Regions from separate parts of the Homo sapiens genome. Here all the other regions are linked to region 2. The links come from fine-mapping of genetic effects on plasma protein levels. A gene starts in region 2. Each other region holds a variant in brackets. All regions are shown on one strand. Distances are between the middles of the regions.

Region 1 (8,101 bases), 240 kb before region 2:
GATGAAATCTGGTCTCGCTTTCACTCTTAGGGCCTTGGCACGTCCTTGCCATCATTAGTAGGGCTTCTGCTTGGTGGAGCCCTGGTAAAGAGACACCCTCGGCCAGGCGCGGGGGCTCACGCCTGCAATTCCAGCACTTTCGGAGGCCAAGGCGGGCGCATCACGAGGTCAGGAGATCGAGACCAGCCTGGTTAACACTGTGAAACCCTGTCTATACTAAAAATACAACAAATTAGCCAGGTGTGGTGGCATGTGCCTGTAATCCCAGCTACTTGGGAGGCTGAGGCAGGAGAATCACTTGAACCCGGGAGGTGGAAGTTGCAGTGAGCCAAGATCGGGCCACTACACTCCAGCCTGGGTGACAGAGCAAGACTCCATCTCAAAAAAAAAAAAAAAAAAAAAGAAAAGAAAAATAAAGAGACACCTTCTACTTGGTGGGGGCCAGCTAGCCACAGGAAGGGCCTCCCTGAGCCTTATGGCTGTGTCAGGAAGAAGAAGATCAACAGGCCCCATCTCAGGGCCAATGAAGCCCGCCACTGTCTGTGGACACACAAGCCCATCTGTGGAGGACTTGGGCCATGTTTCAAGCAAATAATGTTTATTAGGTCCCAGGTCAGCCCATAAAAGCTCTTGGAATCCAAAATGTGCTTGAAGCTTAGGATCATTAGTTCTGGTTTTCCAATACTTTGCTCGTTCATTCATTCAATCCCTCATTTGGTCAGCAAATGTTTACCAGGTGCCTACCAGATGTAGGGGTATACAAGTTAGGTTTAGGATGCAGTTATATGACCTGGGCTAGAATGACAGTGGCTCTAACCAGACATAGGCTGGCTCCTTGCTTGTCAAAGCCACAGCTGGTGCATTGCTCAGGCCCCTCTACCTGTTGCTCTGCATTTCTGGAGCGAGCTCCTGTTTGCACGGTCCGCACACCTCACACCTACACTGCTCATGCTCCTGCACCAGCGGGAGGAGGTGAAAGAGGAAAGGCACAGCCAGGCGCCACGCACAGCCTGCTCATTCGGACTCCGTTGGCTGGAACTTGATCACGTGGTCACAACCTGCTGCAAAGGTACTGGGAGCTGTGGTCTTTATTTCGGGTGAACACAGGCCAAGCTAAAAATCAAGAGATCTCTTACTGGGAGAGAGGAGGAGACAATAAATGTTGGGAGACCACTAGTAGGCTCTGAAAAAATTGGTGAATAAAACAGATGTGCTCCTTTGCCATGGATCTCACAGTCCTGAAGGGGGGATGGGGACAGCATGAAATAACAAGTGACCCGAAGAGTCAGTGCTTCCCTCTGTGATGAGGGGTGCCAGGGAAAGTGCAGGGCACTCAGAGAGCAGTGAATAGGGCGTCAGGTCAGGCTTCTTGAAGGAGGGGGCATTAGCCTGCAGGACGACAGGCTGGAGGAAGGGGGGGTACACTGGGGAGGAAGAGGGAATGGCATATGCTAGGATCCTGTGGCAGGCAGGAAGGCGGCTGGCCCTTAGGAGGACTAGGGAGGAGCTGGTGTGGCCGGGGTTCATGGGCGATGAGAGGGGATGAGAGGCAGCACTAGGACAGGCAGGGCCTGTAGCCCAGTGGGGCATCTGGAGACCCCGCCCCGCCATCAGGACACTGGGAAACCTCCCTGATGGAGGGTGGAGATTGGCTGAAGGGGCGACTCAGCTGCATGTGTAATTTTAGATCACTCCACTCTATTGCCTGTCTTCTCTGGAAACAAGGATCCCTGGAGCTCAGTAAAGGTTACAGGGGTAAAGCAGGGGAAGTGGTCCCACCTGCCCTGGAGGCAGAAGCATGGACAGAGAGCTTTGCTGGCTCTACCACACGCTAGACATCTTGTGCCTAATTAGAATCCCAGAATGCTGGCGTGGAGAAGACAGACAAAAGCATCCAGTCCTGCTCCTTTGTGTACAGATGAAGAGGCTGGGCCTAGAGAGGGAGAGGGGCCCACCTGGGTCCCCCAGCAGGGTGGTGGTGGTGCTGGAAACAAGATGGACTCTTTCTGACTCCCTTGGTGGTGGTAATGGTGGGTGGCAGGACCTGGGCTGGGGTCACTGGGTCAAACTAGTGTCACCTGGCCCCTGGGAGCTACCTATCTGAAGCAGCTCCAGAAACTTAAATTTGCTAATTAATTTATAATTCCAGCCCTAAGCCATAAAATCAAACCACACACTGAGCTGTCCACAGTTGCCTGACAGCTGGCCTGTCTGATCCTGGCTGTCTGCTCACAAATTGGTATTAGTGGCACCAAGAGCAGATTAACATGGTGACCAGGCACCCAGAAACTTGATGCCACCCGCTGGGCTCACTAAAGCTGTCAGTCTCCCCAGCTGCTAAGCTGCCCAGGCACCCATGTCTCCCCAAGCTTGGGTTGCAGAGCAGTCCTGGGCCCAGCAAGGAGTAGGACCTTTCTCAGCCATCAAGTGATGCCACTGGTCAAATATAAGTTACAGGAGAGAAAAGCAGGGAGGCATTGCCAGGAAAGCAGTATTCAAATTTCAGAGTTTGCACAGGGCTTGAGAATCAGTGGGGACCATGGGCATTCATCATCCTAGCCAAAGCCCACACTGCAGAGCCAGAGAACTGAGCCCAGAGAGGAAAGAGCTGCGGTGGTGTCATCCGGTACAGGACTATAGCTCGGGCTCCCTCCCCGACAACCTAATGCTCTACCTGTTCCTCTGAGTGAGAATGCCGCTTTCCCATCATCTCTGCCAACCTGCGTTTTTCTTTTATGTATTTGTTCACCTCATCAACTCCTACCTCCTGAGCACCTACTACTGTGCCAGACACTGTACAAGGCCCTAGGATACAGGAAGCAATCATTGTGGGAAGAACTAGAAATATGAAGAGTCATTCTTGAGGTTAGTATGATATACATTAGTGAACAAAGGAAGGGAGGGCGGGAAAACATCCCAGACAGGATGAGCCACGACATGGGTTGCATTAGATAGGGTTGGAAAACACCACGGTACAGTGGTGTAAGCAAGGCATTTTCCCTCCTGTAAAATTCCAGGGCCAATATGATCACTCTGACCTGCAAAAGCCTTGGACACCCATGCTCCTTCTACCCACTACGTCTCTGGTCCTCATGGGTCAAGATGGTAACCAGGGCTCTAGCCATCAGGTCCGCACTCCAGGCAGCAGGATGAGAAGGACAAAGAAGAAGTGGGAAAATATATGTTCCCAGAAACACTTGTATAAGAACACTTAATGTCAAGAACTATAAAGGGTCTGAAATTTTACTCAACTTGAAAGGTAATGAGTTAGGCTCTTGAGAGGCTGGCAGAAGATG[C/G]CAGAACCATGAGTCAGAGACAAAGGATGTTATTCCTCACAGCACAGCAAACAGCATGTGTATCAGCATATTTGCGTCAGTTCCTTTTGCCCCAAGTCCCACAGAACAATGTGAGTGGGCCCAGATGGATCCTGTACTTGCAGTGAATTGCATTACAGGAGAGGAACCCTGAGCTTAGGGAACCTGGATCTTTTACAATGGGAAGCAAGCGTGCTTGCCCTTTGCTCCAGAGGGAGACGCTTGATCTTCCAAAGCTGTCTGCAATACAAACACCCATGAAAAGATAGGTCAATCAGTGCCTTACTCATAAGATGTGTAGAAATGCGAGAGACTCATGGGGAATTGTCTCCCAATATACAGCAGCTTTATTCATAATAGCTCCAAACTGGAAAGAGCCCAGACGTTCATCAACAGGAGAAGAGATATATTTATGCAATGGACCATATTTGTGCAATAGCCATCTTAATGGGTGTGAAATGGTATCTCATTGTGGTTTTGATTTGCGTTTCCCTAAAGATGGGTGATGGGTGTCTTTTCACGTGCTTGCTGGCCATTTGTATATCTTCTTTGGAGAAATGCCTAAGTCCTTTGCCCCATTTTTTAATCAGGTTGTGTTGTTGTGTTAATTATAGAAGGTTTTAACCAGGGTGGTAACTTAGATTTACGTGTTTGGAAGATTCCTGTGGTGCCCTATCTGGAGTGTGAATTGAAGGCAAGAGTGAGAGTAGCATGATCAGGGCGGAAGCCGCTGCAATGATCCAAAGATGATTGATAGTCTTCACCAAAAGAGAACCACAGAAATGGAAAGGAAGGGATTGGGGAGAGAGGCATTAAGGAGCAAGAATGGGCAGGCTTGATGAGCGCATGGCAAGGGTGGGGAGAGAGGGGAAAAGTCAGGGCTGTCCAGGCAGTTGACTGACGACCAAGTACATCACCATAGAGAGGGCATCCTATAGGAAAAATTTGCAAACCCTCCTCTGGTAACCCCTGTCCCCATGAACTCCTACAGAAGCAGCTGCACGGGACCAGCATCTTCAACTTTTCCTGTTTGGTGATTTTGCTAAAATATCTCACCTAGCTCTGAGCACTCCCTGTTCACCTACCTCTCCCTCCCATCCCTCCATCACGTCTGGACACCTGATGCCCCTTATCTCTTGGCCCCAGTGCACGTGGGTTATCCAAATCTTCAGTTCCAGGCTCATGTCTGTCCTCACAGATTGACAACCTTCAGAAATGTCTCCAGCTTTTGGACCCTGGCTCCCTGGACTGCTCTTGACTTTGCCTGCTGCCCAGGTTTGGGGTCTACTTGCGTAGTGGGTATCGATTGGGGTGGGTGTCCAGCTGATGGGAGTGTGTCCAGTATGTGACCTGCCCCTAGCCACTGCCAATTAGCCCAGGATGGGGCCACTTGAACCAGGCTGAGCCAAGCAGAAGCCTTTACAATTCCCCATGCACAGACTGTCCCCAGACCAAGAGAAGCCAGAGACTCCGGTGTCCAGCTGGAACTAGAGCCGGCACCCCCAGTGCCAGCCCTGGCCACCTCTGCCTTGTCTCCATCCCTCCCGCTTTGCTCCACACACCCCCCTCCCTGGCCTCCTTATGCTGCAGCCTCAAGACCATTGCCTCTTCCTGGAAGTCTCTCTCACCTCCCTCAGGTCTCTGCTCAGGTGTCACCTCCTTCGAGGGGCCATTCCTGTCGCCCTGCTGGCTTCTCCTGGAGGTGCTCTCGCTGGTGTCCTAAGAGGCCAAAATCTCTTGTTTTGTTCCCTGTGGAACCGTCTGAGTCTAGAAGAGTGCAGGTGCACAGTGGGTCCTGTTACATTTCTGGAATTCAGGGAGAATGAGTAAGGATGGTGCAGTAGTAGCGAGACTCACAGAACTCTGCCTGCAGGGGCCATTTTCCCCAGCGAAGAGAGCTGCCCAGTGAAATAACAGAGGCCTGGGGCTCACACCTTAATGGTGAAGGGCTTAGTCTGGGCCAGGTGACGATCTTCACCTCTCTGCCTCGGTTTCTTCAGCTGAACAATAGGAATAATCACCTGCCTCTTAGTGCGATTTTGAGGATTAAATGCAGGAATGCGAGTAGGCTTTGGACTTCAGTCAAGGCTCAGTAGCATAATAATGGGTCAGGAGCACGCAAGCTCCAATTAGAAGCACTTAGGGAATCGTATTATTCTCCCAATACCTGATTTATGTAATAACAGAACTCCTGCTATCACCAGCTAGGCACGGTGGACCAGAGAGGGCCAGAGGCGACCCCAGGCTTGCAGCCGACTTGCCAGCCCGGGCCGCAGGTCGGGACCGGCGCCGGCTACCCCTCCGAGGGCGGCCGAGGGCGCGGCCCGGCCCGCGGGGCGGCTTTGTGCGTCGCCTGATTTCCATTTCCCCAGATAAACACGCGGCGGGGGCCGCGACCTCGCTGCCTAGCAAATGCCTCGGCTCCCCGCCCCGCGTGGGGCCCGCGAATGAGATGATTTACTCCTGTTTTGCATATTAATTGACCTAAATGCCACCCGTTCTGGGAACAATTAAGAGGCCCTTTGGCGCCCGGGGCCACGGGCTGGCGGCGGCGAAGTGGCGGGCGCCCCCTCGGGGCCGCGGGCCGGGCCGGGGCAGGGGGATCCGGGGACGCGCGGCCCCCACCTCCGCCGGCCGCGGGCACAAAGCGGCCTTTGTGCGGGCGCCGGGCAGGGCGTTTCCGCGCAGACAAAGCCCCCGCGCCCTGCCCTCCCACCCTGCCTCCAGGCGCCTGAAGCCTCGCAGAGGACAGGCCTTCATGCCCTTCCCTCCCCAGCCCCGCGACGTGGGGTGCCGCTTTGATCTTCGCTCTTCCCCGGAGGCTGAGTGGCTCAGTGGCTCACAGGTGGGATCCGCCTCCTACCCGGTCACGGCCGTGCCCTTGCCCTTGGCAGTGCGGGCGGCGCGGGGACAGCGTGCCTCGATCCAGGCCTCTCAGCCGACCTGAGCCGGAGCCACGGAGCTGGGGATGCCCGCGCAGCTCTGCGCCGTCACCCTGTGTCCAGGCGCACTGTAGAAGGGGGCCGACAGGAAGAGGCGCTGCGCCAGAACTGTTCCTTCCAAAGCACACCTGCTTCGTGCCTTCCTTGGGTTTCCACCGTAGGAAACTGGCACCACCTCCTACCCCCTGCTGGGGCTGGAAACAGCGCCACCCCGCTTGACTCTTTCCTGTTGCCTATGGCTCTCACCCCACTCCTTCCCGCATTTCCGCAAGTCCTGTGGGTTCCAGAATACCCCATGTCCTCTCTCCATTTGCACTACCTCTGCGCCTGTCACCAGCACAAGGGCTCCAACTCTCCCCAGTGGCCACTCCGGCCCTGTGGTTTCCCATGCGGGTGCTACTGGCAGGCTTTCAGGGGGTAAATCAGACCCAGCTGCTTCATCGCCCCACCCCCCACGCCAGCCCTTCAAAGGTTTCCCTTTGCACTCAGAAATCTACTCCTCTTTCCATGGGCCCGGGGACCCCGTGGGAGTCAGCATTCCTGCTGTCCCTTGGCCTCTAGGAGCTTATTCCAGACCTCTTTTAGGAGAGCATATTTAAGAGGAAACCTGAAGGATGAGGAGGGAACTGGCCAGCTAAGGAGTCAGGGGAACAGTGTCTCAGGCAGAGGGAACAGTGAGTGCAAGGGCCCTGAGGCCAAAAAAAAGCCCTTGGCTGGTTCTAGGATGGCCCAAGGGCTGCGTGGCTTGGAGTACAAGGGAGCACAGAGTGAGAGCAAAGGATCACCCAGGTGGGCAGGGGCCCAGCCTCTCGGGTAAGGGGTGGGCAGGGGCCGGGCCTCTCAGGTAGGGTGCTTGGGTTTTAAGCAGGAGGGTGACTGGATCTGGTCTACGTGTTCATGAGCAGTTACCTCTCTATGTGAGCATCTTGGGGTGTTTCCTCACCTCCTCCTCCAACAGCTAGGCTCCCCTGCACACCCCAACACACACACACACACACACACACACACACACACACACACACACACACATCATCTGTCCTCAAGCCCTGTGGGCTGTGGATTCAAGTCCCAAATTCCCTCCAGCCAGGCCTCTCCCTCGCATTCCCTCTGCCACGACTTCTCGCCTGGGTGACAACAGCAGCCCAGGAACTGCCCCACCCTGCCACAGCTGCAGCCTCATCCCCTCACCCCCTACCCTAGGGCTCTGGGCCCACCAGCCACTGCTCCCATTACCTGCCTGTTCACTGGGTCCTGTTGGCTCCTCAGGACTCCCAGACCATATGTCCCATCCTCAGGCCTTTAAAGGGCAGTGGCTCAGCTGCTTGGTCCATGAAGGAATAAGGGTCTAGTGCTGCCAGATTGGTATACGTTTTCAGGGGAGGCCCGAAATCCAGATTTTGATGTGAAAACTCCCTTGTAAAATATCAGACCAAAATAAAAACTATTTTAACACTGGTAGAACCAGACAAATGACATGTAGTGAGAGTTGGGTTGTTTGCATCTCCCCTGCCGCCCCCAGCCTGCATATCTCATGTTGAAAATTGATCCCCAGTGAAAGGTATTTGGGTCACGGGGGCAGATCTCTTATGAATAGATTAATGCCCTCCCTCTCAGAAGATTGGGGGATGGCAGCCGGGGGAGCAGTGTGAGTTCTCATTCTATTAGCTTCTGTGAGAGCTGGTTGTTCAAAAGGGTCCAGCAAGCACCTCCCTCCCCCATCTTTCTAGCCTCCTCTCTCCCCATGTGATCTCTGCACGCATGGCTCCCCTTCGCCTTCTGCCATGAGTGGAAGCAGCATGAGGCCTTCCCCAGATGCAGATGCCCAATCTTCTAGCCAGTAGAATT
Region 2 (8,101 bases):
TTCAGGCAGGTCTGCAAGTGCTATGCGGGCGGGCGGGCAGGCGGGCAGGTGAGTGGGCAGGGGCCACGTCCACGGCCAGCCCTGATGGCTGGGGCCCACATGGGCAACTTCTGCAAATCAGCTGAAAGCCTTCCCCATCTCTCCAAGACCAACTAGGCTGCTCCCCTCCCTTGGCCTCCGCTGAGGGGACACCCCCCATCCTCAGCAGTTCAAGAATGCCTCCTCCCCGCCATTTCCTCCTGCGGTCTCATCCCCTTGCCTAGGGGTCATTCCCACCCGTCCCCAAACCAGTCCTAGAGGAATGTCCCCAATGAAGGGCACAGATTGCAACTTTTTTTCTTTCCATTTAGAACAATTCAGATTTTCACTTAAAAGGTCATACCTGGTAGAAAAGTCCTTTTTCAGTTATACAACTGGCAAGGATGACCTGTCAACTGTTGGAGATCAGTTAAAGCATCAAATTTAGCCCCCTCTTCTCTCCCTCCCTCCCCACCCCAAAAACACACACACACATAAGTCATGTCAGAGGCCCAAGCCACAAACAGTCAAACGGTCATTGCCCCTGCTCCCAGGTCTCTGACGGGTTGTGTCCTTTCTGGGTCTCTTTCCCTCGACAAGGGCATGGAAGGACAGGCTCCCCAGGCCTTGAAGCACGAAGGATCCCAGGCTGGGGAAGAAGCAGACATCGAGCCAGGCAGAGCAGGCCTGGTAAAAGCCACGGGGCACACGCAGCCTCCGCCGAGCTGCGCTCCCCACCCCTGCATCTGCTTTTCCTCTCCGTGGCTCTCTCTCTCTCTCTGCGTCTCTGTCTTTGTGCTTTTATGTGTGCTCGGAAGGCGCAATTCAGAGTGGCCGGGCCAGCTGGTGGGAATGGTGGCTGCTCACCCCATTCTCTCCGACTGACAGGCATTTGTAGCTAAGCTGCCATTTGTCACCGCATCCATTTGCTGGTATCCTGGAGGCTGCTGTGTGGGTGGCAGGATGCGTCTGGCTGTGCGTGGCTACGTGTGCATTTTAAAGTATTTCATGTCAGTTGAGGGTTCTCGCTCTGGTTTTGACTGGTTGCTCTATGAAGCTGTAGAAAAATATCTCAGGCCGCACCCTGGCACTATCTCCACAGCCCAACAGAATGACTGTACTCAGCCCACCGTGTACCCCCGTTCCCGCGGGGGCTGGAAGAAGCCCACCCGGGACTGCCCTCCGTGCCCCACCACCGTGCCCCTGCCTTGCACTGTCAGGCGCAGCCGCACTCCTCCACAATCATGTTGGGCACGTCCCGCTTGACGATGTTGTACTCATCATCGAAGTACAGCATGGACATGGTGCTCAGCTTGGTGGGAATGCAGCAGGAGTTCACCGTGCCGGGGTTCAGACCCCGCATGCGGTACTGGTTCACCACAGCCGTGTGGAAGGAGGAGGCAGAGCCGGGGACCCCTGCCAGGTAGGCTGGGCAGCTGCCCTCACAGTAGTTCCCGTAGTAGCCGGTGGGTGCTATGATCCAGTCGTTCCAGCCGATGAGGCGGAAGTCAATGAAGAACTGTTGCCTGCAACAGAGGTTGGTCCGGCCATCGCACTCCAGGCCTCGCTTGCGAATGCGGTGCCTGCTGTCGCCCAGCCGAGCCTGCACCACCACAAAGGGCCGGTGCGACTCTTCGCCTGGGTCCACGAACACCGGCACCACGGCCAGCTCCTGGCAGCTGTCACACTGCACGTCTAGGTTGAGTCGCCGCTCGCCCCGCTCAAACAAGGCCTGGATGGCCTCCGTGAGTGGGAAGGTATGCCAGCCGCTGCGCTTGAGGTCCACCCTCTTCTCCACCATGTTCCACCTGTCACCGTGGCCCTGCTCCTGGAAGTACACTTTGACCCGCACCTTCCGCCGGCTGCCCTTCTCCAGGACGTAGGGCAGGAGTTTCAGGTAAAGCCACAGGCTGGCCTGGACCACAAACAGGTTCTGGTTGCCTTCGTTGGAGATGAAGAAGTATAGGCGGACCCGGGAGGAGGCGAGGCCATCTGCGGAAAAGGGGAAGGGCGAGCCAAGTTAATTCAAGGAGAACACAAGGCAATGGGGGAAACACACTCTCTGCTGCAGGATGCTGGAATGCAACTCGCCACACAGCTGGAAAACGTTACTGACCAGAAATACCATTCTTGGGGCCAGGGCCTCTGACTGTAACCTGGGAGAGGCAGAGAAAATCGTTTCTCATTGAGAAACCCGGACCAGGCTGGGGCTGGAGGGTCCGCGCCTATAAAATCCTGCCTCACCTCTCCCAGGCCAGGGCTCCCTGGAGACAGGCTGTCAGGCCTCAAAGCACAACAGAAGAACTTGTCAGGGGGCCAAGATCTTAACAAGTTGTTATGGGTATCTGTGAAATCTGAAAAACAAAACCAGGATCGCAGGGAGGATTTTGGGGTGGGTGGTTTTAGTAGGGCTTTTTTTTTTTTTTTTTTTTTTGGTTAACTTAGCGCATTGCAAAATCAAGCTGAGCCACCTACCGCCTCTTTCCAGTGTTTACCTAAGTATGATGTGATCCAACCCCCAGTGGAACCTCCACTGCAAACAAGCAGGCTCTGCTCAGGTTTCTGACATAGGAACGTGTGCTTTGCAGGCTGCAGAGCCTAGCCCTTATAGAATAGTTTCAAGGGACAGGACATTCAGCCTTAAAACTTGAGGTCCAATCCTTTGACAAGACTCTGGCTCCCTGTTAATGGCACGTTCAAAATCCCCAAGGAGTAGGGGAGCTGGCTAGTTAATTTTCTCAATAATTCAGCTCAACAAGAAGGAGGCTGTGCCAATCAAGAGATGACTCCCCTCTCATCCTACATTCCGGTGACCCTTGCCTCTGACAATCTACGTTTTTCTTTCCTTTTTTTTTTTTTTTTTTTTTTCAGGAAGAACAAATAATGAAACTCTGTGGTCAGGGCTGGTTTTATCAAACCTCCCACCATGCCCCTCCCAAGCCCCTACCTCAGGCCTCGCCTGGCTCCTCTAATAACACTGACATCTGACTTTGAAATGGGGGAAACTGCAGCCTTAAAAGCTGGTCTTGGACGAGCTGCCTGTGACCTGAATCTGTTATTTATAAGTCAAAGAGCTGGCTCCGTGAAACGGACCAGAAATATAACAGCCCCCGCTGTCATTTTGTGCCACCGGGACCAAAAGGCCTCCTCGACCTTCCAGAATCACATTTCTAACTCTGGGCCCCAAAGCACCTTTTAATCCGAGCCCTCTAATTGCATGGCGAGCTTTCCCTGACTCACTTTAGTGGACAGCTAAAACGGCAATGCATTTCTTTCTAAGCACAAACCAGCCCCGATTGTCTCTGCTTTTCTCCACACCCGGCCATGCAAAACTTTTCATCCCTTTTCATCCCCGGGCTGCCTGCTGCCTGGTGGGGTGGGGGGCATTTGCAGCCAGGGGCACAACCGCTCCCCCCACCGAGGCTCCCCGCTTGCCCCCGCCCTAACTGCACCGGGGCTTCCCCCTCTGCGACCTTCTCCGCAGTCCCCTCGGCACAAATGGGGCCGAGCTCCAGGCACAAAAGCCAGCCTGGCTCATTCAAGTCCTGAAAAGGACAGCGGAGTCGAAAGCACTTGCAGCATTTTGGCGCGGGCACATTTTTCTCCTTCTTTTAAAGTTCCGAAAGATTTTTCTCTCCCTGATTTTTATATTTAGACAGTGTTAGAGATTTGCAATCTGGGGCCGGGGGGGGGGGCGGATTCCAGAAAGGAGCCATACCCTTTGTTAACTACGACTCTGCCTCTCGGGCGAGGGGTCTGCTGCAGCTGCCAGGCAAGCCGAGAGGCACGGGGCTGTCCCCGAACCGCGGCTTTCTCTGTGTAAATGATGGACCTGTTGAGAAGCCTGCCTTCCGCCCGATTCCGGTGCCCACACAATCGGAAGAGAGGTTGCCTAGCTCTCCCCAGCGAGGCTTCAGCAATCCTGGCAAGCCCACGCCGCCGGTGATGGAAGCGGCCCCAGGGGCCTCTCACGCAGGCACACACACACACAGACACACACACAGATACACACACACTCTCTCTCTCCTCCGGCCCACGTATATCAACAAGCACACACATCTCCATCCACACTGCTAAGCCTACACTCCGATCGTGGGAAACAAAAACATTAAGCAATCACCAAGCAAGTGCCCGCAGAGCCAGGGCCGCGCGCATCTGCCGGGAGGGGGACGCGCGCCCAGAGGCGCTGGGGCCCGATTCCGGAGAGCAGGGGTGGAGGGCCAGGCGATCGGCGGCGGGGGGTTGAGGCAGCAGGCAAGGGTCTGCGGCCTGGGGGAAGAGGACTGCAACCCGGGCGGAGCGCGCAGGGCCACGGCCGAAGGAGCTCTGCCGGGAGTCCAGGCTGCCCCAGGGCGCGCGGGCTGCGGTGGCGGCGGTGGCAGCCGGAGCTAGCAAGGAGAGGGAGAGCGGGAGCGAGCGGGGACCGCGGCAGACAGCCGGAGGGCCGGACCCACCTGTCTCGGCGAAGCTGATGATTTCGGAAACGCGCTCCTGGCCGTCGGCGCCCGGGCTGGCGTGGCCGTCGAGGTGCGGGATCTCCACGCGGCCGTCCTCGCGCACCTTGCCCGCGTGCAGCTTGCGCAGGGCCGTGACCATGGCGGCCTTAGGCACGGCGTGCGTGATGTTGGGCCGGCCCCGCATCTGCAGGCGGCTCAAGATGTGCCGCTTCACCGCCTCCAGGAAGTCGCCGTCCACTCGGCCGAGCTCCTCTGGCCGCCGGAAGCCGCCGCACGACGTACAGGTGTCCTGCGAGCCACCCGGGGATCCGGGTGGCGGGGGTGGCGGCGGCGCGGCAGGCGTCGGCGGGGGCGTGGGTGAGCCCCAGGCCTCAGGCCCCAGCCAGCCGGCCGCCAGCAGCAGAAGGCAGGCGGCCCCCAGCGCCCGACCGGGCAGCCCGTCCATGGTGCGCCGCTGGCGACGAGGGCGCCCGCCGCGAGGCGAGCCGAGTCGAGCCGAGCGCAGGGCCGGGCTCCGGGCTCCGGGCGCGCCGCCCCGCCCCGCCCCCGCCCGCGCCCGCGCCCGCCCGGGCCTCCGCCCGCCCGCCCGCCGGGAGGGCTGCCGCCGGCTCGCAGGGGGAGGGGGCCGGCCGGGCCTCGGGGGTTCCCGCGCGGCAGGGAAGGGGCGCCGAGGGCCCCGGGGGCCCGAGGGGCGCGCCGGGCGGGGCGGAGGTCGCGGGTCACTGCCGCACGGGCGTCTCGGGGCGCCTCGGCATCTGCAGCCTTCTCCCCATCCTTTCCGCGTCGGGGGCCCCGCAGCCCCGGTTCGGGTGAAGCGAAAGCAGCGTCAGTGGGAGCGGCGGTTCGGCCGGCGGCTGGGGAAGGTGGCGAAAGAGCGGGTCCACGCAACTTGGCTGAGACGGAAGCGAAGGCGCTGGAGCCCCCCGGAGCGGAGCCGGGCGCGGCTTGGCGCGGCGCTGCGGCGGGCGCTGCGGCGGGGCCCCGCGCTCGCACCTGAGCGCCTCGCCCTCACTGCCTCGCGCCAGGAAGGGCCGCCGGCGGCGGAGACGGGCAGGTCGTCCTCGCCGCGGGCCGGCGGGCAGTGGCGCGGAGCAAGCTTGGTGCCCGGGAGAGCCGGCCGCGCGGGCCCGCTCACAGGCGGCGCCGAGCCCTCGGCCGCGGGCCCTGCAGTCCTCCCGGCGCGTCACACGGCAAAGTTGTCTCCAGGATCCCTGGGCGCCGCATCCACGGGCGGGCGGCCGCAGCGCGCTTCGCCGGGGCCTCTGCTCCGCCCGCCTCCTCGCAGCCTCCCTCCTTCCCTCCGCCTGCCTGCGCGGCCCGGCCGGGCGCGGGGCGCCGGGCGAGGAAGGCGAGGGGGAGGCAGGGCCCTTCTCGCTCCTGTCTCTTCTGCCTGCCGCGGCGGCGGCGAGGTCGGCTCGAGCGCCGAAAAGTCTCGCAGCGTCCCCGGGTGCAGTGCCCTCGCTCGCGCTCGTACTGGCACCCGCCGCAGGGCCGGGAGAGAGCGGGCGGGCGGCGGCGGCGTCCCCGCGCCGGGCCGCGGCACGGAGTGCGGAGCTCGCCGAGGAGGAGTTCTTCTCTTTGGTCTCTCTTCTTTTACTCTCCCCGTTTTTTCTCCCAAGGGGGAAAAAAGCCGCACAATCTCCGTATGTGCGCGCGCGTTGAGATAGACGTTGGCAGAAAAAAGGGGGGGAGGGAGGGTGTCGTCCTGCCCGTGCGAGAGGAGACGGTCCGTACCTCCCCGCTCGAGCTTCCCGGGGTGGGGGGAGGAGGAGAAAGCGGAATCTGTTCAGGTTGGGGCTGCCCGCTCCCCGCGCTCACCCCTGCTTCCCACCGCTTTTTTCCTTTCTGCCTTCCCGAGAAGGAGGGGCGAGCCGGCCCTCTCCCCTCCCCTCCTCTCCCCTCCCACCCCCCGCAATGCCGGGCTACTTTTGCTACCTCGAAACTTTCCCACCACGTGGGCGCCCCGGACCCTTGCCCAGCTGGGCGGCCGGCGGCACCGACGGGTTCCAGGCGCTGGACCCAGGCGCTCCTCCCGGCCCACTCCCGCCTCCCCGCCGCCGCGCAGGCCCTGCCTCTGTCCCAGCTGCCGCCCTCCCCAACCAGCAGAGGCGACTCCCGCCGCCGTGGCCGCCCCCGGCCCTCCCGGGGCGCTCCCTCGCGGCCGAGCCTGGCGAGGCGAGCGGGGTGCGGCGCGGCCTGGGATGCCAGAGGCAGGCTCCGCCGGCGGCTGCCGCTCTGGGGCTGCAGTGCCCTCACCCAGCTCCCCGGGCCGCCGTCGCACTGGCCGAGGCGTGGACCCTGCGAGCTGGAGGGCGGGAAGGCAGTAGCCACTGGAGGCCTGGCCAGCGGCTGCGTCTGCTGGGCCAGGAGGAACGCCCCGATTGTGCGGGATCCCAGGCGCGCGGCCCGGAGGCCACTGAGCCTCAGGGCTTGAGGGGCTGGCAGGGTCTACAGTACCCCACCCCCACCCCCACCCCCAGGGAATTCCCACTTTCGCCAGCAGACAAACTTTGGCTTCACTCAGACCCGGGTTCCACTCGGGCTCAGCCACTGCCAGCTTTGCAGGAGTGACCTTGGATAGAGTCCTCACCTTTCCTATCGCCTACCTCTTCTTCTGTGAAGGGACAGTAACACCTGTATCACAGGGGCTGGGTGGGAGGCCCAGCGAGGCAACTGGGCCAGGCTCTTCACACAACCCGATAAAGGATGGTTCTAGGGTCACCGTTCTCAGGCCACCGGACAAGGAACACTGTCAGTGGAAACTTGACTTTCAGACCCGTCCGGGGCCCCAAGTGCAATGCGCTCCTCTGTCCTTCTTCACGCCCCCACCCGGGTCTGGGGCCGCATGACAATGCCCACAGGACACGGAGCCGTACCCCGTTCCCTCGCAACGGGCTAGACTCAAGGCAGAAGCACGATGGGAGTTCATCCTGGCTTTCCCAGGATATTGGGGAATCGGGGACGTCGGAGGCGGAGCGTGGCCTCCTGCCCCCGCCTCCCACCGCCAGTCTCTCGGGCCAGCCCTGCCACCGTGGAGCTCGGCCGGGACCGCAGGCCCGCGGCGGCCTGCAAGTCTGGAAGCCGAGCGCCCCCTCCCTCCCAATCGGAGGAACCGACCCGAAGCTGGCGGGCAAAACTAGGGCGGGTGTGAGTTTGCCGACCGAAGTCAGAAGCAGGGATCCAGGAGGATCCCCGAGATGGCAGCCCTTCTGCCTCCTTAGAATCTCCACCAGGGCCAGAGTCTCTGCTCTCCCATCAGGTTGCCCTTGCCCTGCCTGGGAGCCTGTGGCCCGGGAGCTTCTGCCTCCTGGGAAGCACCTCCTGCATGGTGGCCTTGAGCCAGGCTGGCCACCTCCTGGTTTTGCTTGCATCTGCCCACCCGGCTGTCTCCGTCACCACAGCCACCAGCTACTTGACAAACTCATTCTCAGGCTCTCAGAGTCAGCCCAGTCTCTCCTCCTTGGCGAAGCCTTCCCTGACCCGGTTGTGCCCTGTATAGTTTTTTACCTGAGTGAGGCTCTCAGCCCAGTGCCTGGCTGTTATCTCCTCCCTTGTCTGTCTCCTGCATGGGAAGCAGACTTCCTGGGCCCTATCTGGTGCCAGACCTGGCAGATGATCAGGGAGAA
Region 3 (8,101 bases), 200 kb before region 2:
GGGAAGGGACTCTAGCCCTGGCTTTACCTGCCTTTGTCATCAGCTGGAGCAAGCAACTCCGCAACCTCGGAGCCTCAGTTTCCTTTTCTGTAAAAGGCGGGGAGGGTGGGTGGTAAGTGCAATGCTGAATCAGAACTCATAGAGCTGCTGGGTGGACATGTGAAGTAAAAGAGGAGACAGCTTTTGCTCCTGAAGGATGCCATTTGCGTTTTCCTCATCAGTTTGATCTCCTCCAATCATCCAGCACCTCCATCTGACCTTCTCAGCTGAGAGGTCCTCAGTGTTTCTGTGGCCTCCAGGAGAAAGGTCCCCCTCCCCGGCTGAGGCCAGGCTGATGGCAGGCTGCACGGCCAGCCTTCCACAGTCACCTGAAGGATACAGAAAAGGAAGAGCTGGAGGCTTCTAGCAAGCTGCCGAACTGTGTCCTCCAGCTGCGCCCAGCCCCCTGGAGGTAGCGCCGGAGCACGTGGTGGTGGCTATGTAGGAAGGCCCCTTTCGAGCCGCCCTATACTGTCTTTGGGATCTGCTTTTTACTGCCACAGCCTATGTGCTCCTGATTCTTCTCTCAATCCCTGGATGGAAACCGGCCTCTGATACTTGGCTCTGCTTCCTTGGAGGAGCTACTTAACCATTCAGTCCTCTCTGCAGTTAGCTATTAAGGTTGTCCTGCGAACTGAAGCAGAGAGTCCCCGCAAAGGGTGCAGAGTAGGGCACCCACAGAGGAGCCTCTAAAGCACTTTCCATGAGGTGGATGGCTTCTCCTCCCCAAGGGACCCAGGAAGGAAAGGAGAGCTGGTGAGTGGGTGGGCTGGGTGAGCCCAGGGGTCAGCTTCCTCCCTGTGGCCCACAACTAGCCTCTGAATCCCAGTGTCACACATGACTCTAAGTTGGTCTTGGGACCAAATCTCTGACCTCTTTGGCTGCAAGTACGAGAAGCCTTATGTAGTGCTAAAACAAAATTTTCACTTCTCCTTTTCGGCCTCTTAGAATCCATTGGCTGAGAGGAAATGAATTCACTAGTGTCTTGGCAAGAATTTATTTCATTTATTGCAATAGCCTCTGTTTACATTTCAAAACCATGCAGACAAGTGCGTGTGAGAGAATATATTCTGTCCATGGATAATGCCTGGGACCCTGATGAATTATCTGGCAGGCCCCCTTGCTGGGCACCAGTTTTGTCGCCATCCAATAAAGTCTTAATATAAACCTGGCTCTCAGGCATGAGCTATCTTAACACATTTTGCCAGGCATGTATTATGATAAGCCCATTTTGCAGATAAGAAAAGAGAGGCACTGAGAGCTATTGTAACGGCTCAGGACAAAGAGATAGGAGAGCACAAGTTAGGTCTGGGTGACCCCAAAGCCCATATTTCCCCCCATATTCTCCTCTGCCCCATGAGAGATAATCTCTGCTAATCTTGTCTCTGTGGCTGGGGACTGGGAACTCCTCAACAGTGAAGTTGTCAACTACCAGCCACATGTTAACATTTCCTGAACAGTCACAATGCTTTTGTATCCATTGCCTCGTTTAATCCCCTAAGAATTCAATTAGTTGCCCTGTTTTACAGAGAAACAGATCAGTCCTCAGAGAGGTTGAGCAACTTGCCCAAGGTCACAGGTTTAGGAAGAGGCAGGGCAGAGATCAGAATCCAAGTCTGCCTGTCCCCAGATCCCTGCTGGCCTCTTTGCAGTGTGTGGGCTTCCCAAGGTCAGAGATAAAGAGGGCACACATAGCTAGCCTGAGCCATAACATCCCTCAGTCCTGCTTTTCTTCCCCACTCACAACATGGTGGGTATGAAAGAGTAAAATGAAAACCCTAATTGTTTGCCCCAGAGCTGGTCCTACACCCGGGATGACTAATCAGTCTCCACATAGAGTACATTTAGGGTCTCTGGAATGAAGGAGAATGTGGACAGAAAAATGGGGCTTTTAAAAAACCTTGACTGAAAGTAATTTTTAATGTGCCAAATATTTCGACTCAATCCAATACACAGGTTTATTACACAGAAGGCCAAAATATCCTAAACAGGCATTATTTTGCAACAAGAAGAAATCAGAGCAAATCCAGCCATCATTACTCCCAGGAGCTAAGAATGTAATTGTCTAATGTGACTTATAATCAGCCAAGGTCTTGTCTTGATGCTTTAGCCCACCAAATGGCTTCTCCTGTCTCCAGGGGACAATAATCCCTGCGGAATTCTCCTTAGCACAGATGGGTTTCTGCACAGATAACGGGTTTTATTGCTTGAAAGCATTTCGCATTCTGTACTGCTGTTCCCAAGAAAGAGCTGGAACTGTCCTGCTCTGCATCTGTCTCTTCTTATTCCAGATACCTCCAGAGCAGCTCAGAATCCCTTGGGTTGGGGACAAGTCGAGGCAGAACATAGAAAGAAGCACTTTGTGCCAGGCAGAGATTCTCCACCCTTCCTGTTGTGTGATTCTGAGCACGTCACTCCTCATTCTCAGCCTTGGCTTCCTCTTCTGGAAAATGGGAAGAGGATGGTTCACTCAGATGCCTTGGGAATTGAGACTCCTAGCAGAGTGCCTGGCATACAATAGATATGCCGTAGCCCCTGTTCTTAATCAACAGCTTGACTGAAGCACGGCCAGGGAGAAGCATGACTTCGTGCGTGGACTTGGGTGCCCTTGGATGGTTGCTTGGTCAGCTAAGTGCTCCTTGTTGAGCATCCCTTTGATCAAGCCACTTCCCTTCTCAAAAGGGTTCATTGGTTTCCTGGCTCCCCTGAATGCAATCCAGATTCTTGAACCTGGCCATCGAGGCCTTCATTTCCCAAAATGTCTTTTCAGCCAACTTTTCCACTATCCAAAGAGCCACTTAATAAATATTTCAAGAAAGAGAAAATACAATGCATCTAGCATTATGTGGCTGAAAATCTTGGCCCTGTTCCTAAGAAGCTCGTAAGCTAATTGGGAGCAGTAAGATACCAAAAGAAAAGGAACCTGGCATTGTTTCCTAACTTATTTTATATTTTAATTAAGGGACCACCAGCTCAGGCCCAGAGCTCTAGTTCCACTTCTGCCTCACATTTGGAGGGCCTGCTCCAATGTGATACTTGGAGAATGCCACTTAAGTTAAGCCACAGTCCAGGCACAGTGGTTCACGCCTACAATCCCGGCACTTTGGGAAGCCGAGATGGGAGGACTGCTTGAGCCCAGGAGTTTGAGACCAGCCTGGGCAACATAGCAAGACCCTGTCTCTAAAAAAAAAATCTAAAAATCAGCCAGGCATGGTGGCACATGCTTGTAGTCCCAGCCAGTTGGGAGGCTGAGGTGGGAGGATGGCTTGAGCCCAGGTGTTCAAGACTGCAGTGAACTAGGATTGCACCATTGCACTCCAGTCTGGGCAACAGAGCAAGATCCTGTCTCAAAAAAAAAAAAAAAATTAAGCCACAGGTGGGTGCTGCGAGTCACTGACCACACGTCCCAGGCCAGGTGGGCGTGGCAATCTCATGAGGAAGCCCCCACACCAGAATGATGACTGTACCCACTTCTGTTTTCTCCATCGACACCCCACACTTGGCCAACAATCATAGAGAATGTCAGAAATGGGTGTTCGAGGGTGTGTTTTCTTTTTGGTAAAAATAGTTGCCTGTTAAGCAGCATGATGACATGAGAAATAAGCTTCCATTTGGTGAAAGTCGAGGTACTCAAGGCCTGTGTGATTTAGAGACACTTCGCAGGGCTGCAAGAACTGTGTAGGAAGCCAGTGAGGCCTGGAGGCTCTGCCCTGTGGCGTTGCTGCCCGAAGCTTGATGCCTGTCAGTCCTGGGTGTAGTCCTTCACCTGGGAGGACTTC[C/T]ATTTGCCTAATGTTGAGTAAGAGGCCTGTGGGGACAAAGAAGTCCTGCCAGGAACATTGTATTTGTTGCAGATAAGCACATGCAAGTGAGTAGGAGCTCCTCAAAGGGCAGAGGGCCCGGATTCCACCAGTGGCACTCAGGAGTTTATACAGCCATTTGGGGCTCCTCGTGAATGAATGCTTGTTTTCTAAATGTCTCCATGTGGCAGAATTTGGAGAGACTGCTTCCGTTCTCACGTCGTTGTGAGGTTTGGAGAAGAAGCTAGCCCTCGCTCACTTCAAACTTTGACAGGAGCTACACTCATCAACCGAAACTAGAAGCAGCCTAAGGGTTGTGCATGACTACAATTTCTGTTTGTTTGTTTGTTGTTTGTTTTTTGGTTTTTTTTTTTGAGATGGAGTCTCACTCTGTCACCTAGGCTGGAGTGCAGTGGCATGATCTCAGCTCACTGCAACCTCCACCTCCCGGGTTCAAGCGATGCTCCTGCCACAGCCTCTCAAGCAGATGGGATTACAGGCACCCACTACCACGCCTGGCTAATTTTTGTATTTTTAGTAGAGGCGGGGTTTCGCCATGTTCACCAGGCTGGTCTCGAACTCTTGACCTCAGGTGATCTGCCTCAGCCTCCCAAAGTGCTGGGATTACAGGCATGAGCCACTGCACCCAGTTGCCAGTCCATTTTTAACAGTCCTTTATTAATAGTCATTTGCAGGGCATACCTAGGCTAGTGTGTCCTAGACTCTGAGGTGAATTTATCCATGATGCTTGAATGTAAGAAATGTCACATCGATTTATCTAATCCATTATATCTGTTTCCAGACCTTCTCCCCATTGATACAGCTGGGCAAACATGACAATGTCAGTCATTCACTGATGCTCCCTCCCTCCCTGCGTAAGCCCTAAGGCATATTAGGAAGCTCTGCTGCATAGTGGGCAGTGGTGTCCCCTCTCTGGGCATGTTTGGCAGGCATCTTTGGGGTAAGGTTTGCCAGCCTGGCCTCCTGCCCAGCTCAGCTTTGCCCCTGCTGTGAAGGGCATCTCCTGCTGTTGGCCACACTTCCTTGAAGCCAGCCAGCTAGAGGGACCTCATGCAGGCTATGGGGCCTCCTTGGTTGGACTCATGAGTCCCAGGTACCAAGGTGGTCTTTTCCACCATAGGTTGGGCCACTTGAGTGGCTATGGATTTGGAAGTCCCAGGTCCCATGGCCCATCCTGTTATATCTCTGTCCTCCTTCCTCATCAGCCCCATAGAGCTGAGCTACACATATTCTCTGTCTCTCTCTCTCTCTCTCATTTGGTATACCAAAGCCTCCATTTCTTGTCTTTTTGGGATTCCATGGTTGAATTATCCTTTTTGGGTCCCAAAACCCTAAAGCCCTTAAACCCACAGGCTGTTAGGGGCTGGAGCATGGGACTCAGATGCCCAGCTGCCCCAGAGAACAATTCATTAACAGTAAAAAGGCTAAGATGCGAATTTTTCTCAGAAAATCACCCATTACATATGAATCTTTATTGAACTTTCACAGGAAAGCCCCAAGAAGATGCTAGTATCATCATCACCCCCGTTTAACAGATGGGAAAATGGACTTAGAAGGATTAACCAATTGTCGCATGGCTAGTGAGTAGGGCAGTGTCAGTTTTGCTTCCAGGTCCAAAGTCTGGATCGCCCATTATGTAGTGGTTCTTAGAGTAAGGCCTGATTCCTTCTGGGCCTCAGTTTTCCCAGCTGCAGAGTGGCAGGTTCTAGCTACCAGAAGGCAGGCTAAACTCATGAAGCCCAGGCCTGCCCGATCAGCATCTCCCTCGGGCAGTCAGCTCTGGCCTACAGGTGTTTGACACACTTATGCTCAGCCACAGGCCCTGGGTGTATGAAAAAGTGATCCTGATCGACAGGCACCTTAGCTTGGGGCTCAGTCAGTCATAAATGAGGCGACAGTTCACCTGTCTCAAAGGTGGCAACTTAAATAACTCCCTCTGGGATATCAAAGCTGGCAAATGACCCTGGGAAACAGCTAGACGGCAGCACAACAGAGGCAGCTCCCGCGGCAGATGGGCACATTCCCCAGGTCCCAACCTTCATCAGTGTGTGTCATTTTTATTGCAGCTTCTGCCTCCCCAGCAGAGAGGGACCTTCCCAGAGAAGATGTCTTGCGCCTCACCTGATCTTGTTCTGAGAGTAGGAGACTGGAAGAGAAGCGTTCAACTCCCCAAACACAGCTGGGTTTGTTTCGTTTAATCTCCCAGCCTGTTTTTCTGCTGTCCTCCTGAAGAATGTTTAATCTCACAGTTAAAACCACCAAAAGCGACTTTTTTCCCCCTCAACTGCTCAGTAACACATGACCGTGCAAATTCGTTTGGCCCCAGCGCCACAAGTCATAAAAGGCATCTAGTGGGCGGCATGAGTCAATCAGGCCTTTGGACGGTGACGTAACCACAGCTTGTCAGTTTCCCCATCCAGGCAGCCCCAATCCCCCAGTGCAGACATCTGGAGCCAGGGATTGACAAGTGGATTCCAGGATTGGGCCCTGCCTCCCGCCCTGTTCAGTTCCAGCCCAGCCACGGCCGCCGCCAACGAGGACACGCACTGTCTTTCTGCACATTCCCACGTACACACACCCCCGCAGCCCCCTCTCCACTCATTCCTGCATTTCCGGCAATGTGAATTCTGACAGCTCGGGCAGTGTCAGCCTCTCCGGTGCATTCCTCACCACACCACCTCACTGCTCCCGAGCCTGCTGACAGCACTCCCCGCCATACCTACCAAGCCGAAGGTGCAAGGAACCTCTTGATCCCCACTGTGTCTTTGTCCCAGGGCCACAGCAAAATAGCACCCCCCTCCCCCACACACCCTCTAGCCTAATTTATTAGACTTTTAAACACATTTATTTACTGTGATATCTACACCACACCAAACATCTGGAGGGAAACCGGGAGACAATCCACCAGGAATTTAAATGTTTGTTCTGCAATGTAACTTTGAAAACCGAACCAGGAAAACTTGACATCTTTAGCCAATTGCTTGGTGGTGAGTAGACTTAAGCCAATATATAATCTGTAAAGGTTGTCCCTCTTTGCCCTCTCTCTATCCATGAAACGCATTCACCAAACAGCCCAGAAATATTTCTTTCTTCTCCTCTCAGAGGTATGTGAAACCAACCTGAATCAACAACATAGTTGTTCAACCAGCCTCACTGAGAACGAAGGCATTTCAGAGCTGGAAAGACGCTAGGGTCTGGGGTCTTATCTTCCACATTTATCTGCCTTATTATAATCCATCCAGTCATCCTCTTTGCCCTTGCCAGATCTCATCGCTTACACTACCACTACCGAAGGAGCATAACGTCTGTGACTTTTCTTTTTTTTTTTTTTTTTTTTTGAGATGGAGTCTTGCTCGGTAACCGGGCTGAAGTGCAGTGGCAGGATCTTGGCTTACTGCAACCTCTGCTTCCTGGGTTCAAGTGATTCTCCTGCCTCAGCCTTCTGAGTAGCTGGGACTCCAGGCATGCGCCACCACGCCCAGTTAATTTTTGTATTTTTAGTAGAGATGGGGTTTCACTATGTTGGCCAGGTTGGTCTCGAACTCCTGACCTCGTGATCCATCTGCCTCGGCCTCCCAAAGTGCTGGGATGACAGGTGTGAGCCACCGCACCCGGCCACGTCTGTGACTTTTCTAAAGCTTTAAGATGATGTCACCCATAGGCAGAAAGGCCCACTCATTTCGTGCATCTGCAGTCACTCTTCTGACGAGGTGCGGCTCTCTTTTGTTCTATCAAAGAGAAAGCCAGTCTAAATTAATGGGAAACTAGAGAATTAGGTCATTTTTCAAGATGAAATTGCTGGTAGCTTAAGGAATCAGCTACTTGAATCCCATGCTAAAAAAGTGTAACTCCTGAGGAGTGAGCTCTTCTTTCTTCCTTCCATAATGTCAGGCACTAAGGGAGGTTCAGAAACACAGAGCAGCATCTACTCCTTTCTCAACGAGCGTGGGGTCCAGTGCAGTTGGCCCTCATTTAACAAATAATTACACCCATGCGTGAAAGGTCCAGTGGGGAAACAGTGCGGGGAGCCTCAGGCAGAGCTGATTCAGGCCTGGGGAGGCACGGGAGCCACATGTTCAGGGTCCACAGGCCCAGCGGAGTGATACGGAAGTTTCCAAGATGGTAAGCCTCTCTCCTGGCCCATGCTCACCAACGGGACCCCATTCCTAACCAGGCTTTCCCTCTCTCTCTTTTAAGTGTTCCAGGAATGTTCCTACCCCTGCGTCTTTGCTGAAGCCCCTCTT
Region 4 (8,101 bases), 110 kb before region 2:
CAGCTGCAGCTGAAGCACACCTGGTCGGGAGACTCATAGCAAGCACCACTCCCACCCCACCCCACCCCACAGCCACACACACCACTCCTCAGCCTCCTTTTTTTCTCACGAAGGCTGCCTCAGCAATTCAATTTCCATCAGATTCAACTGGATTCATGTGGCCCAAAGGCCGTCCACACCACAGGTCCTTCCCAACTGCGATGCCACCTGGGCACTCGCTTCCTTGCCAGGCAGCTGGTTCTCCCTGCCCACCATTTATCATTCTAGAAAGAGCTTCAGTTAAGCAGACACTTGCCTGTCTTCCTGCAGCTTCTACCTGTCAGCCACAGAGCAGGGGTGTGGGGGGCACAAGGGCGACTCCAGCCAGATCCCCTGGGGTCTGCATCCCAGCTGGGGGCATTGAGCTTCTGGGGGTTCAGTTCCTGTCTCTGTAAGGTGGGGAGTTTGACAGTCACCCCAGAGGGTTGTTGAGGGGTTCAAATGAGATGATACGAGGAAAGCTTTCAGCCCGGCACCCAGAACCACAGTAAATTACTTTTTGTTATTATTGCTGTTGCTATTTGTTCATTAAGCATCTGCAATGCCTTAAAAATAGCTGAGGGCTCCACTCATGCGCCCTCACCTCTGTGACAATTTAGCTTCTTTAGGCTGAACATACAGCCCCTTCCTTCAAATACCCACTCTGTGTCCAGGTCTCAGACTCTCACCTCTCTGGCCAGACTTTACTCAAGTCCCCCAAAGGGAAAATCTGGAGGAGAAGGAGGAGGCCTCTTTTGATTTTTAGGACAAATCTACAGAACTGAGAGAAGCTTGACCACAGCAAAGAGTAGAATGGGAACCAATCATTACCCAGCATGGAGAGGCGGAGTTCTGCTCAGAATAATAAACCTTTGTCCTTCCTGAGGCTTAAAGCTGTCCAAGGGTAGAAAGGGCTGCCTTGGGAGGTAATGAGCTCCCCATCTCTGGAGGCATTCAAGGTGGATGATCACCCACCAGGGGTGTTATAGAAAGGATTTTCACACTGAGTGGAAAGTTGAACTAAATGACGTCAAAGATGTAAGCTCATCACAAAGAAGAAACAAGTTCATTCCTTCCCTCATTCAACACATATTCATTGTTGCATTCCTAGCCACACCGACCTCTGTGCCATTTATTCTCCTGGGTATGCAGTTCACACTAAGAAAAGAATCTGATTTTCGGAAGCATTTAATGAAAACAGGGCTACTTTGAAGTTGCTCTTGACCTTCACTTTTACATCTGTAAAATGGGTGGGACAATAACAGTGCCTACTTCACACGACCAGCAGACAGACGCTAGAGCGACCTGGCACACTGTGGACCTCAGTGAAAATTGGTTTGTCATTATCGTTAGTATCATTAACATGAGGACTATAACTGAAATCCTGGAAATGTTTCTCTTTCTCTCTCTCTTTTTTATTTTTATTTCTTTTTCTGAAGACCCAAACAACTCGGTATGTACTAAATCAAGTCCTAAGAATCCCACCTAGCTAAAGCCTTCACCCACAGCAGCCGGGACCAGCTTGGTCTGGAAACCAACGACACACCAGTTCTCGGCCCACATCCAAACCCAGCCAGGCACCAGAGACAGGACGTCTGCTGAACCTACATTATCTGCTACCATCATTTCTAAGAAATGGTATCCAAGGGCCAAACAAAGCAATTTTTCTCTGAAGCAGCTTAATCGTGTTGTAGAGGAAAGGGTGGTTCTAACTATAAACCCAACTTGGCTTTTCAAATGAGGGGAAAATAGAAACCCATAAGCCCCTCAGAAAATCTGATGTCAGCCAGCTTCTTGCTTCTCCGTTTCAAGTTACTGGGTACTCCTCTGCTGCCCAAATGGGCCAGAACGAGGGTTACCACCAAGAGGGCTTAGGTCAGATCAGGGCCTGTGCCTGCTGTCCCTTGGGGTCTGATCATGGTCTCTAGACTGACACTCAGAGCCTCGGTGAGGCTTGGGGTGTCTAAGGGAAGAGTACATCTGGGACGTTTCATATGTGGAAGAGCCTGGGCTTGAGTCAGGCCACCTGGCTCCTGGTCTCAGACCTGCCACTCATCAGCTGTGTGAACTTTGCAGGTGACTGAACCTCCCTGAGTCCCCATTTCCTCCTCTGTTAATCGGCACTATTGAGTCCTATCTTTGAAGAATTGGGAGGATTCAGTGAGGCTGTACTCACTAAAAGCCTGGGACAGAGAAGACCCATGGAGTAGTCACTTCCCTCCACAGAGCTTGCTGAATGGCTGAGCCTGGGCAGTGCTGTGCTTTCCCCGGACTGGCCCATCCTCCCTCTATCAGGAAAGGTGGGTGGTAGACAGGCACCAAAAGGACGCAGAAGACAGGAGGGGTGCTGGGCTGAAGGCTGGGGCCTAGGGAGTGGCCCTGGCTGAGGGATGAGGGCTGGCTTTTTGGGGAGAAGTAGAAAGGGGTTTCTCCACAGTGCATTTGATGCAGAGCTTTCAAGCACCTTCTGAAGGCCTCAGGGGAGAGTCTGAGCTCTTGCTTGAGGAAACAAGAAGAAGCTCAGCAGGAGGGGACTGAGGAGTGGGCGAGTCAGCCGCTGAATGTGTGCAGCACTGAGCATGGGCGAGGCTGCTTGGGAGACCCTGCAAGGGTTTGGGGGACCCTTGTGAGGACTGACCAGGACCGCCTGTGCTCTGCTCAGGGCATGTGTTGTAAACACGGGAGACTCAGGCCTTGACCCAGGGAACATGGGACTCAGATGCAAATTCAGTAGTCCTCGAATTTCAGTGAAATCGGCGTTACTTAGAGAACTGCTCAAAATACAGCAGACCAAGAATTTCACTTCTGAAAGGTGAAAAGAAGTAGGTGCACTGGCTTGGGACCTCGGAACCCAAGAAACAAGATGGTGGTGAATTGCCTGGGTTTTCTTTTGCCTTATAAATTCCAGACTTGGAGCTAAACAAGCCAGCAACCCAGAAACACCAATGAACACAGATGGAAAAAAGAAAAAAGCCCTGATACAGTTTGGATCTGTGTCCTTGCCAAATCTCAGGTGGAATTGCAATCCCCAATGCTGGAGGTAAGGCCTGATGGAAACAGGTGACTGGGTCATGGAGGCAGAATCTATCTCATGAATGCTGTAACACCATCCCCTTGGTGTTGTCTTCATGATAGCGAGTGAATTCTCACGAGATCTGGTTGTTTAAAGGTGTGTGTCACCTCCCCCTCACTCACTCTCTCTTGCTCCCACTCCCACCATGTGAGATGCCACCATGGCTCCCTGTTCGCCTGCTGCCATCATTGGAAGCTTCCTGAGGCCTCCTCAGGAGTGAGCAGGTAT[C/T]GGTGCCATGCTTTCTACACAGCCTTCGGAACTGTGAGCTGATTAAACCTCTTTTCTTTATAAATTATCCAGCTGCAGGTATTCCTTTAGAGCAATGCAAGAACGGCCTAACACATGCCCCAAAGGAAATACAAGGGAGAAGCCTAGCAAGACAGAAAACTTTTAGTCAATAACCACTCCATTCTAGTCAAACAACAAAGAAAAAGTGTGGCCCCACCCCAAACCCATCATCAATAGCTGAGTGGGAGCCTAGATTTCCACCCAAGCTATACGGAGGAGCCTCAATACCCCACTGGGTGGTATCAGAGAAGGCCCAGTGGGGAGCCAGCACTTTTACTCCCCATTGAGATGTTCTCATGAATTATTTATTGCTTTCTAATTTGATTCCATTGCCATTGGAGGAGACATTCTGTAGGATTTGAATTATTTTAAATTTGTTGAGGTTTGTTTTATGGTCCAGGGTGTAATCTATCTTGACATATATTCCTTGAGCATTAAAAAATAATATGTATTCTGCTGCCTTTAGGTGGTGTGTTTTATAAACGTCAGTTGAATCCTATTGGTTGATAGTGTCATTGAGTTATTCTTGCTGATTTTCTGTTTAGTTGTTCTATCCATTGTTTAGTGAGGGAGTGTTGAAATCTCCAACTATAATTGTAGATTTGTCTTTTTCTTCTTTCAGTTGTTTTTGTTTCACTTATTTTGCAGCTCCATTGCTATGCATGTTTAAGATTGCGATGCGTTTTTGGTGTATTGAACTTTTTATCACTATGTAATATCCCTCTCTGTGTCTGGAAATATTCTTTGCTCTGAAATACTTTATCTGATACTAATATAGCCACTCCTACTTTCCCATGATAAATGCTTTCATGATTTATGCTTTTGCATTCTTTTACTTTTAACTTACCTGTATCATTATTATTAGGGAGTTTCTTGCCTATAACACATAGCTGAGTTGTGCTTTATAATCCACTCTACCAATCTCTGTTTTTTTAATGGCTGTATTTAGATCTTTTATATTTAATGTAATTATTAATATTTTGGACTTCATTCCATCATTTTATTTCTGTTCTCTGTTAATACTCTGTTTCTCAGATGTGTGTTTTCTATTACCATCATTCCTGGAATGAAAAAAAAGTTCCTGGGTCACTGGAACATTTTTTACAATTCCATTTTGATTTACATATAGTGTTTTTGAGTATGTATCTTTTTGTATAGCAACGTTAATAGTTCCTGTAGGTATTACATTTTATATACATAACTCATCACCATCTATTTGTATCATCGTTTTATCAGTTTGAGTGAAGTATAGAGACCTTACTTTTCTTTACATCCTGTTTGTAAATGTCTTAAATTTTTCCTCTAAATACATTTAGAACAATACCGGACAATGTTATAGTTTTGCTTCCATCATCAAGCATAATTTAGAAAACACAAGAGGAGAAAGAAAGTTCATTATATTTATTCATGTTTTTGTTTACTATGTTCTTCCTTCCTGATGTTTCAAGATTCTTTACTTTATCATTTTCTTTCTGTTTAGAGAAATTCCTTTAGCCATTCTTTTAGGGTAGATGTGCTGATGACAAATTCTTTTAGTTTTTCTTCATCCAGAAATGTCTTGATTTCCCCTTTATTCCTGAAGGATATTTTCACTGGGTATAGAATTATGGGTTGACAGTTCTTTTCTTGTAGCACTTAAAATATATTATGCCACTTCTGGCTTCTATAGTTTCTGATGGTAATTCTACTGTCATTCAAATTGTTTTTCCTCTATAGTTAAGGTGTCATTTTTCCCCTGACTGCTTTCAACTTTTTTTTGTCTTTAGTTTTCAGAAATTTAATTACAACTGGCATTGATTTTTTTTTTTCAATTTGAGGTTGTCTTAGTAGCTCAGGATGTTATAACAAAATACTACATACTGGGTGGCTTAAACAACAATTTGTTTCTCACCGTTACAGAAGCTGAGAAGTCCAAGACCAGGGCACCAGCAGATTCAGTGTCTACTGAGGGCCTGCTTCCTGGCTCATAGACAGCAGTCTTCTCACTATGTCTTCACATGTTACTCAGAGAGAGAAAGCAAGCTCTTGCAGAACACTTGTAAGGACACTAATCCCATTCATAGTGGTGCTGCCCTCATGACCTCATCTAATCTTAATTAGCTCCCCAAAGCCCTACCACCTAATACCATCATGTTAGGAGGCAGGGTTTCAACACACGAAGTTTGGGAAACACACATTCTGTCTATGACAAGGATTTTGTCATCTTCTTGATTCTGCAGACTTGTCTTTTGATAAACCTGAGCAGTTTTTAGCCATTATTTCTTTGAGTAATTTTTTCAGCCCCATCCTCTTGCTCTTTTTTTTCTGGAATTCCAATGACAAAAATGTTAGAACTTCCATATAGTCCCACAGGTTCTCGAGGCTCTGTATTTTTTGTTTCTTTAGTCTATTTTGTCTCCATTATGCAGATAGGTTCTACCATTAAGTTCACTGATTCTTTCCTCTGCCACTTCCATTCTACTGTTGAGCTCATCCACTGAGTTTTTAAATTTCAGTTATTCACTTTTTGAGTTTGAAAATTTTCCATTTGGCTCTTTTTTATACCTTTATTTCTTTGCTGAGGCTTGCCATCTTTAAATTTGTTTCAACTGTGTTTGTAATTGCTTATTGAAGCATTTTTACCATGGCTGCTTTAAAATCTTTGTCAGATTATTCTAACGTCTCTGTCATCTTGGTGTTGGTATCTATTGAATGTCTTTTGTCACTCATCTGAGATCTTCCTGGTTTTTAAACCATTTGTTTTAGTTGGCTTTCTCTGACACCACTCTATCAGCAACAGTAGGGGGCAATACCTTGTTACCACCAGGTGGAGATAGAAGTCCAGGTTCCTCCCTTGGCCTCCAGTGGTGGAGTGGGAGTTCTGTGTCCCATGAGGTCTCCACTGCTACTGAGGTGATGGTGGCATCATTGTCATGGAGAATGTGAAAGCCATGAATTTCCAGTAGGCATCCTCTTGCATCACCCCAGTGTGGGGAAGGGGAAGAAAGTGAGGCATCTCTTTATGGATGAGTGGGGACGAAAGTCCCCACCCTCACTAGACCTTCTCTAACACCACTCAGAGAGAATGTTGGGGTGCCTTATTACAGCCTTGCAAGACTGCTAGTCTGAAGGCCCCTTGGCCTTTGCTAGAGGGCTGGAGACGGAACCACATTTTCCTTCTGTGATGTTTGGCTGGAGTAGGGGGTTACCGTTGAAAATTTTTTCATCTTAAACCAGATATTGCATGTTCTCACTTATACATGAGAGTTAAATGATGAGAACACGTGGATACACAGAGGGGAATGACACACACTGGGTGTGAGTGTTTGGAGGGTGGAGGGTGGGAGGAGGGAGAAGATCAGGAAAAATAACTAATGGACACTAGACTTAATACCTGGGTGATGAAATAATATGTACAACAAACACCCATGACACACATTTACCTATGTAATAAACCTGCACATTCTGCGCATGTACCCCTGAACTTAAAATACAAGTAAGATAAATAAATAAGAAAAATAAAAAACAGGCCAGGCATAGTGGCTCACAGCTGTAATCCCAGGACTTTGGGAGGCCAAGGCGGGTGGATCATGTGGTCAGGAGTTCAAGACCAGCCTGGCTAACATAGTGAAACCCCATCTCTACTAAAAATACAAAAGTTAGCCAGGTATGGTGGTGGGCACCTGTAATCCCAGCTACTCAGGAGGCTGAGGCGGGAGAATTGCTTGAACCCGGGAGGCAGAGGTTGAGTGAGCCGAGACTGCGCCATTGCACTCCAGCCTGGGTGACAGAGCAAGACTCCATCTCAAAAAAAAAAAAAAACCAGAAAAGAAAAATAGAAAACAAGTTTGTCTTGTTAGTTGGCCCCTTTTCTGATCCTTTGGCTAGAGGGGCTTTTTTTTTTTTTTTTTTTTACTGTGCCAGTTAGGGTTTCTGGGCTGGAAGGCTCTTTATCTCCAAGTCTGAGATATATGAGGAAAAAAATAAAAAATCCATGGGACTTACCACCATGTCATCCAGAGGTCCCTGGACAGTCTGCCACCTCTCCACATTTCAGAATCCTTTTATGTTTGTTTTACATATCATGTCCAGGGTTTTTTGTTATACTTAGCAGGAGGAATTGGGCAAGTACCTCTACCCCATTTTCCTCTACAGGAGGATCTGAAGCCCCTCCTGTCTCCTGTGTTCTTTTTATATGCACTCTTTTTTTTTTCAGTACTATATTTTTTCTGCCTCAACCCTGAAGTCAACCACTTCTTCAAGGAGCCCTGGTAGCTTTTACTGGAGAATTGTATTTAGAAACCAAGGACTGTGGGCTACATGTGCTCATTGCAATGGCTTCTAGGCCCTCATAGTGGACAGAGTTAGGAAACACATGTTTATACACTAACCCACATACACACATGTGTTTACATTTATTTCTGTCTCTCTCTCTCTCTGTGCATCTGTGTATGTACAGAATTCATTATCCAATCCAACATCACGGGATTCATTATAGCATTCTCCTTTTGATTATTTGTAGGTTATTTCTCTGAAATGAGACACCTGGCTTTCAATATCTACAATAGATTTACTTATTTGTTCAACCCTAGCATACATGTACAGTAGTTTCAGAATGCTAATTTGTACCCCCGTGAGAAACAAATTTACCAACTAGAAGGCAGTGTTTGTGAACAGTCCTTTTTTACTTAGCCTTACTGTTGTCAAACAAAACACTATTTTCCAACGTTACTGAGGTTGCCT

Which allele goes with the higher level. Alleles are on the strand shown, and positions count from the first base shown. The strength of an association depends on the size of the effect and on how common the allele is.
In carriers of allele G in region 1, the plasma level of the protein whose gene starts at base 4,973 in region 2 tends to be lower than with C alone (weak association).
With allele C in place of T in region 3, the plasma level of the protein whose gene starts at base 4,973 in region 2 is lower (strong association).
For the plasma level of the protein whose gene starts at base 4,973 in region 2, allele C in region 4 goes with a lower level than allele T (weak association).

What was found. PIP is the chance, under the fine-mapping model, that this variant and not a neighbour inherited with it causes the effect. The UK Biobank Pharma Proteomics Project read protein levels with antibody pairs (Olink). The fine-mapping took linkage between variants from a reference panel, not from the people measured, so its PIPs are less certain.
Region 1: its variant is fine-mapped to the plasma level of the INHBB protein (UK Biobank, PIP above 0.99).
Region 3: its variant is fine-mapped to the plasma level of the INHBB protein (UK Biobank, PIP above 0.99).
Region 4: its variant is fine-mapped to the plasma level of the INHBB protein (UK Biobank, PIP 0.92).

What each region holds. Positions count from the first base shown.
Region 1 is chr2:120,585,232-120,593,332 of GRCh38, reverse strand. No RefSeq gene overlaps it. Among named protein-coding and RNA genes, the nearest start is that of LINC01101, 120 kb to the right of the region's middle. RefSeq lists an enhancer at 4,316-5,209. The variant C/G (reference allele first, on the strand shown) is at 3,297.
Region 2 is chr2:120,343,008-120,351,108 of GRCh38, reverse strand. INHBB (inhibin subunit beta B) reads right to left here and starts at 4,973. Exons shown (of 2, transcript NM_002193.4): 1 at 4,473-4,973; 2 at 1-2,010. The coding sequence starts at 4,920. The coding sequence ends at 1,235. LOC105373989 (putative cuticle collagen 91) reads right to left here. Exons shown (of 3, transcript XM_047446882.1): 2 at 7,082-7,187; 3 at 5,116-6,222. The coding sequence ends at 5,195. RefSeq lists a cis regulatory region at 7,331-7,821.
Region 3 is chr2:120,544,582-120,552,682 of GRCh38, reverse strand. LOC105373585 (a long non-coding RNA gene) reads left to right here. Exons shown (of 4, transcript XR_001739681.3): 3 at 1-795; 4 at 5,924-8,101. Among named protein-coding and RNA genes, the nearest start is that of LINC01101, 82 kb to the right of the region's middle. RefSeq lists enhancers at 671-820, 7,973-8,101. The variant C/T (reference allele first, on the strand shown) is at 3,819.
Region 4 is chr2:120,455,211-120,463,311 of GRCh38, reverse strand. No RefSeq gene overlaps it. Among named protein-coding and RNA genes, the nearest start is that of LINC01101, 7.1 kb to the left of the region's middle. RefSeq lists an enhancer at 5,994-6,555. The variant C/T (reference allele first, on the strand shown) is at 3,320.